Linked DNA regions of Homo sapiens. The protein of the gene in region 1 interacts with the protein of each later gene in a biochemical or structural test. Each region holds a gene or a part of one and is shown on either strand. Other genes may lie near its edges.

The links. Proteins that work in one complex are often made in the same cells at the same time.
Region 2: the proteins of EML1 (region 1) and TUBB3 form a complex in vitro, tested with the Homo sapiens proteins (one study listed by BioGRID).

What each region holds. Positions count from the first base shown.
Region 1 is NC_000014.9:99,894,413-99,897,912, reverse strand, and holds part of EML1 (echinoderm microtubule-associated protein-like 1), read right to left. Parts: intron 3,285-3,500; coding exon 3,155-3,284; intron 769-3,154; coding exon 619-768; intron 1-618. UniProt on the Homo sapiens protein: Modulates the assembly and organization of the microtubule cytoskeleton, and probably plays a role in regulating the orientation of the mitotic spindle and the orientation of the plane of cell division.
Region 2 is NC_000016.10:89,922,068-89,926,141, reverse strand, and holds the start of TUBB3 (tubulin beta-3 chain), read right to left. Parts: upstream 2,801-4,074; 5' UTR 2,741-2,800; coding exon 2,684-2,740; intron 1-2,683. UniProt on the Homo sapiens protein: Tubulin is the major constituent of microtubules, protein filaments consisting of alpha- and beta-tubulin heterodimers. Microtubules grow by the addition of GTP-tubulin dimers to the microtubule end, where a stabilizing cap forms.

The DNA of each region.
Region 1 (3,500 bases):
GGAAAGATACCATCTTTCGTGAACAGGATTTTTATCATTGACCAAGGAACCAGGACAAATACAAATATATAAATCCATCTCTTCACGCATCCATCCTTCCAAGATATGTAATATGCCTACCAAAAGCTATAAATGAATTATGGGAAGAGCCGACTCAGCCACAAACATGAGGCAACACATTTTTATGTTTATCAAAAAATAAAGACCCAAATTAGAAGCCTTTAATACATGATGTGTTAAGAAGGCCTCCAAAGAGGTGGCGCTGTTTGTTGAGACAATGTGGTCCGTGAAGCTCATGCGTTGGTGAGGCTGGAAAATTAAACATGAGAGGGGTCTCACGGAGCGCAGTAGTGAGCGGACCACAAGGAGACCACACAGAAGAGCTCTCCCAAAGACCTCATTTCCTCAGACCCTCTTCCTTCTCTTTAGTTATGTCCCAATACTGACCGTGTTCTGCTAATGCTATTTCCACCTGTGCAACAGGAATCACATTTATTTATTTATTTATTTTAGAGACAGGGTTTCACTGTTGCCCAGGATGGTCTGGAACTCCTGGCCTCAAGCGATCCTCCTACCTTCGCCTTCTGAGTCGCAGGAATGACCTGTTTCAGGACTTACCACTTCACGTCATCGTTGTGGCCAGCGTAATGCCTCTGCAGTTGCTCCTCCACGTTGTATAACACCACCACGGATGCGATGAAGTAGACGGTCTCTCCCGTCGGAAGCAAGTACAGGTTGTTACGGCAGTCTCGACCCCTGTACCCATAGCTTTGTGGATGTCAAGATAAAATTTTTTTTCCCTTTAAGAGCTGACAAAACATCAGCTTTATTCAACAGGCACAGGCAATAAAATACCATATAACTATTACCATCAGCATCACTAATTTAAACAACATTAAATTGCAAATATTCCATGACAAATACATGTGACCCCCAAAAGGCATGCAGTAAAGTTGAAACAGTCATTGATGTAATGTGAATACATATTTTCACAATGATTTGGTTTTATTTTTAGAAAGCTATTGAGTCAATTATTAATTTTTTTACTGTAATCTACGAGCTAAATTTTTACTAAAAAATTCCTTTTTTAAACATGGTAAAAGTACTTACAAAGGGTACAAATGACACACACACATGCACACAAACATACATAAAAGGTAAAAAAAAAAAAATCAGGCCCCTCAGATCCTTTGGGATAAGAATCCCTGTTAAAATTTTTGCATTATATTTCCAAACCTTGAAAATTATTTTATTTTGAGAACAAAATATCACTTCAACTTGGATGTAAAAAGTAACCCGGCAAGATGCCAAATAATGGCCAAAAAAATGCCATTTATTTAGAGCAAATTTCATTGCTTTACATCTTCTAAAATATGAACAGGAAGTAGGCTGAATAAATGTTTTGAATAATGTTTTCCAGATGTGATATAACCGTTTAATAAACCACTACTGACTTAAAGACGAGCTGAAGCACTTCAATTTCATGTATCAAGATAGATTCCAAAACAGGTGCAGGTAAATGCCTATGACATTTGAATCTGGAAAAAAAAAAAGTATTTTGGGGGAGAAATTTAGGTACAGGTGGTAATTTTAAAAAATTTCTAAGGAATATGATTCCATAATCTCAAATAGTAATTATTCTAAATGAAGTCACAATAGCTTAAATTTAAACCAACATCTTATAATTTGTGTTCCAGGCTTGGCATTAAACAGGTACTCAAATATTTGAAGGTGAAAAAAAATTTTTTTTTTCCCTTAAAATCTGCATAGACTGAAAGGTGGTCTCTGCAGGATTCCTCTAAAGTAATAAGAAAATGGAAAAATAATCAACAATTAATTCACCTTTTTCACAGTTTCTATTTTCTTATCTTTCAGTTGTTTTTTCCCCTGGAAGCTCACTTTTCCAAACCTCATGCCATGAAGCTACCAGCACCTCTGTTTCAAGAACGTTAGTTATATGGTTGATTCAGATTTTTGTGGCCTAGATTTTTGGGGAGCCTTTTTGATTGATATGAATATATGTATTTTTGAGACAGGGACTTGCCAAGTTACCCAGGCTGGACTTGAACTCCTGGATCCTTCCATCTAAGCCTCTTGAACAGCTGGGACTACAGGGATGCATCCCTGTAGCTAGTTTTTTTTTTTTTAAAGTAGGATGATATCTACGTGATATGTCAATTTCATTTACGTCATTCACTTGACTCCCTTCATTCAGTACTTTGGTATTCATATTTTTCTATCATCCCTTCAGTCAAGGTCACACTTGAAGTTTGGCTCCTAAGGCTGGCCAAGTCCATACTTGGTTTAAGGGGAGAATGCTAGTCCTCCTTTCAGAGTACCCCTCTTTCTTTGGGTTTAAAAACTTTTTTGCCAATGTGGTTTAGTTTCAATTTTGGATACTCCCATTTCCTCAATCATAAGGACAATATTTTCTTGCATTGTCACTGTTGTTTCCTTATAAATATAGAGAGTGCCTAGTTTTCCATCTGTCCCTGAAGAGTTGACTAAGTATATGATAGCTCCTGTTAAAAATAATTGGCTTTTGGCTGGGCATGGTGGCTCATGCCTATAATCCCAGCACTTTGGGAAGCTGAGACGAGCAGATTGCTTGAGTCCAGGAGCTCAAGAACAGCTGGGGCAACATAGGGAGAGACTATCTCTTAAAAAAAAATCAGTTCTCATTAGAATCTAAAATTCTACCCATTCTTGATTATTTTCACTGTTCACTTCTTTATATATTTCTAACTACTATTGTCATTCTTTTGGAAAGAATAAAATTCGGACCAGAAACTAGTGATTCATTTTCTCCTGACAAAGAAAAAAATCACTCATACAATCATATAACATCTTCATATTTTCTTTTCAGCAAAATAATGAACATGTATTTGAGCCAGAACCACAGCTATTTCGTTCAGGAATGATAAGTTGGTTCTCCTGATAATAAGCCGCTCTTATGAAGCTCCTACTTTGTTAGAACTCTGTAGGTCTCTAACATATAGTCAATTTTGTTACATTAAGTTTTCAAAAGTAACAGTAAAACATTTTGTTTTTTAAAAGCTTAAGAGGACTTAAGTTTTATGAATTTCTACAGTTAACATCAAGCATTGATTGACTGATAACTTCATGTGAGACCTAATCAATGAATAAAGGATACACCCATTCCAGCTTGAGTCTCTTGGTTGGAAGTTCTACTTTTGCTTCCAAGCTGTAAGAATCCACTTGATCTTTGGGCATGTACATGGTAACAGGGCGTCCACGAAGAAACATTTTTACATAGCCTTCTTCTACAAAAAGAACAAAGATTTCAGTAAGATACCTCAGTGCCCAGCGTACCTGAAAACAAATGCTTTATCCTCTCTAGCCTTTCAGTATAAAAGAGAAACTTTTACCCTTCTGTCATTCTAATTGATATCCTAGGGAAAAAAGTAACATAAAAATAAACAGTTTGAAACAAAAGTTTGCATCTTGTTTGCTTTTGATATTCTGTTTACTTAAGTACA
Region 2 (4,074 bases), on another chromosome or scaffold:
CCCGGGGGTCCAGATTCAGCTCTGCGGCAGTGGGGCAGCGTCCTGTGTCCCGCGGGCCCCGGTGTTTCTGCATAGCCCGGCCCGCCCCTGCCCCCCCCGGGGTGACTGCAGGCGGCCGCTCGGCTTTCCGGGCTTCGGGTTTTCTCATCCTCCCGGCGGGCTGCGCCCGGCTTACTGCATCCCCGCGAGCTGCCGGGGGCTCGGCTCCCAGCGCAGGGGTGACCGCGGTGAGTCGTCCGCGCTGCCGCGTGACCGCCCGGGACCCGGCTTTGCTCCCGGCCTCGAGTCACCCCGACTTCCCTCTGCCCAGAGTGCACGGGCCTTCCTGCCCAGCCAGGCACCGCCCGAGGACCCCAGACAGGGAAGCAGCCGCGTTGCACCCCCTATCAGCTGCGGGAGTGGAGGCCGAGAACGGCCAAGGAACTTCCCATTGATTCCACAAGGGCAGCAGAGCAAAGGAACACGCTCTTGCCGCCCCCGCCCCCGAGAAAATTTCCTTCTCTGTTGCTTTCATTGTTAAAAAGAATCAGATACTATTATTACTGTGAGACAGGATCTCACTCTATCGCCTAGTCTGGAGTACAGTGGTGCGGTCATAGTTCATTGCAGCCTCGACCTCCCACGCTGAAGCAATGCTCCCATCTCAGCCTCCCAGGTAGCTGGGACTACAGGCGCGGCCCACCACGCCAGGCTAATTTTTTTTTTTTTTTTTTTAAGAAACGGAGTTTCACCATGTTATCCCGGCTGGTCTTGAACTCCTTCGCTAAAGTGATCCTCCAGTTTCAGTCTCCCAAAGTGCTGGGATTACATGAGATTCCTCATCCACCGTGCCCGGCCAGGTATTAATTTTTAAAAAGAAATATATTAAGAAAAAACAAACAACTCAAAAGGAATAAAAAGTAGCGGGCAAACTAAGAGCTCCAGTGTTCAGAAGCAGAGCACAAGGCAGCCAAGGACACGGTCCAGGGGACAAGGGCTCCCTCTGCTACCCGTGGAGCCTCAGGGGATGTCTGCATGTGCACCTGACTTCTAGATCCCAGCTCTTGCCTGACAAGTGCCTTGTGGGACCACAGCTCTGGGCCCATCCCAGCCATAGAAGGAGAAACCCCAGGTGGGCCCCAGGGCTGCCTGCCCTCCCTCTCCCCAGAGACCCCTGACCCTCCCAGGAGCCCCAGGGCTGCCTGCCCTCCCTCCCCCCAGCGACCCCTGACCCTCCCAGGAGCAGATGCTCAGGGGAGGCTTGGCCCCAGTGACCACATTAATGAGCCCTCAGCCCCTCCCATCAGGCCAAGGCAGCTGTCAGAGGCTGCTCCGGGAGTCCTGGTTTGATTTGAGGCCACTGTCCCCCAGGTCTCCCCTCCCCCAGGCTCTCCTTGGCAGGCACAGCTGTCTCCTTGGGTGATTAGAGTCTCCCCACTACTGGGCCTCCCACCCTCAGAGGCGCCTCCACCCGGAGCCAAAGTTGCAATTTACATGTCAGCCACGTGGCTGGCCCTGTTGTAATTAGCTTTTTGTTCCTGCCTGGTTTCCATGGCAACAGCCTCCGGAGGCTGCCTTTCTCTGGCCCCTTCCCCTCCAGGACCGTCTCCTGCACCCCCTCCTTCCCAGAATCAGCGCTGCACCAGCCCTGAGCTGGGTCCCTGGCCTTGGTCCTGACAAAGCCAGCCTCCCCCCCCGATCCCCTGTTCCCCAACACTGTTCGGAGGGCAGATCCTTTGGCAAGCAGCGCCCCCAACCCGCCCCGCCCGAGCCCCAGGTTGGCTCCTGCAGGGGATGAGAACCAAGGGCCAGCCCAGCTCTCTCGCACCTGCTGTGTGACCTTGGGCCAGGGACAGCCTCCCAGGACCAGGGGACACGACGTCCCCTTAATGATTTAGGCAGGGGTCCCTGCACAGCTGCACCAACGCCCCTTTCTGCGTGGCCCCAACATCTGCGAGGTGGGCTAACAATGGAGGGAGGGGCGCGCCACGGTGCAGCCTCCACACCCCACAGCCCGGCTTTGTTCCCACATCCAATCCCCAGACTGGTAGACCCTGGGTGGGCGCGGTCAAGCCCCGCGGGGGTTGCCCAGGAGCGGCTGCGCCGATGGAGAGCCTGGTCCTGGACCAAGGTCATCTCGAGTCCAGGCCCAACCCCTCCAACAAAGGGACAGGGTGGAGCTAGGACGCCGAGGGGTGTCGGAGCAGGCTGGGGAAATCGGGGCGGCTCTAGCCTCTCGGGGGACGTTCGGCTACTCCAGTGGGGGGTTCGGGCCGAGGAAATCACGGCTGTGAGGAGAACCCCCCACCCCACCCAAACCTGCCTACCCCACCCGTCTCACTCAAGGCTATGCCGCGGCCCCAAAAAAGAGGGCCACGCCCAGACAGGGCTCCCAGCTGCACCTGCGGAGGCCCGGTGGAGGGGGTGCAGGTGTGGAGGGGGCGCAGGTGTGGAGGGGGCTGAGGCTTCGCGACTGACGTGAGCTGCGCCTCGACAGCCCGAGGTCACCTGGGCAGGGGCAGAGAGGTGCAGGCGAGAGTCCCAGGGCGGGGGCCCCGCGTCCCGGCCGCCCGGCGCGGCGCTGGGCGCATCCCTTTGTTGCAGGTTCGCAGGGGCGGGGGCAGCTGGAGGTGCGGCCCGCGGGGCACGGCGCCTCCCTCCTCCCGCCCCGGGGCCCGGGACAGGCCGGGGCGCGCAGCCTCACCTTGGCCCCGATCTGGTTGCCGCACTGGCCGGCCTGGATGTGCACGATCTCCCTCATACTGGGCGCGTCTGGCGGGCGGCTGCGGACGGGCGCGGGCGGGCCGGGCTGGCTGCTGAGGGTCGGGGACCGCGGCCGCGCGCTCTTATAGCCGCGGCCCCGCCCTTCGCATCGGCTGATGTCACCGCGGGTGGCCAATCGGGAGGCGCCGCCGCAGAGCCCCGCCCGGCCCGCAGGCTCCGCACCGCGCGTCCCCGCCCGCCGCGCGCAATGCGGCGCCCCTCCCGCAGCCAAGGATCCCCCAGCGCTGGGCCGGGCGCGGTCTGAGGGCCCCGCGCATTCGAAAGGAGGGGCTGTCTCCCAGAGGAGCTGGCTGTGGGGGCGCCGGGCTCCAGGGAGGACAATGGCCCCTCTTGGCCCTGGGAACCCCGCCCCCAGCTACCCTCTCGGTTCCGCCCTTGCGACAGCCCCACCCTGCGGCTTTGTACGGAGGGTCTTTTTTCCCCACGCCGGTTTAGAGACCAACCCGCACCATCCCAGCTCCCTGTCTTTTGGCAGACAAGGTGCTCTGAGCTTTTGCCGGTTTTGGGTGGGGGAGGTAGGTAAAGGCTGGCCCAGGCCCTGAACCCACTGAGAAGAAACAAAGCGTCGGATCAGAGCTCGGAAGGGCGCGAACACAGAGGGGTGGCGGCGGCCGAGAGCGAGCTCCGTGGGTCGCCGGCTTCCGCAGTGGGCGGGGAGGGGGTGGGCACCCGACCTCCTCCACCAAGGGGCTGCCATGAGCGTCCAAAGGAGCTTTGTGGGCCCGGGCGCGCACAGCACCTGGACGTGCCACTGCCCGGTGCGCATCCGTGTCAGGAATTGTCACAAGGACGCACAAGCCAGGCAAGAACCCGGCCAGGGTGGGGGAGGGTGGGCAGCGGCTTCTATCTGACTCACTCTCTGAGGTCGGAGACTGCGTGCAGGGGGGCCTCGGGGGAGCGACTGGAGATGCGTTTACTGGTCAGAGAAGGAAGGGAGCAAAGGACTCGCCGGCACGGCACTGACCTCCTCCTGGGCCAGATATTACAGTGCCACCACCTTAGAACAAGGGCCTTCTGATACTTCAGTAACAAAAATCCTTCAGGAAGGGTCTGACAGTGCACGATGTACAGACGAACCCCACCCGGCCCCCAAATCAGCATTCACTTCACAAAATGAGCAGCTGCGAACTTGCCTGTGGACGCCTGTGTCCGGTCTGTGTGCACAGGGCTGTGTGTGGGTGGCGTGGACCTGTACCTGTCTCTCTCTTTTCTCTCAAGAAGCTCTCCAGTTTGGAAAGTCGAGAAATGGATCTTTTGTTCTCAAGAGATGCCCCTCCCTGCCCCACAGTGTGCTCGTGTGGCTGCTGCTGG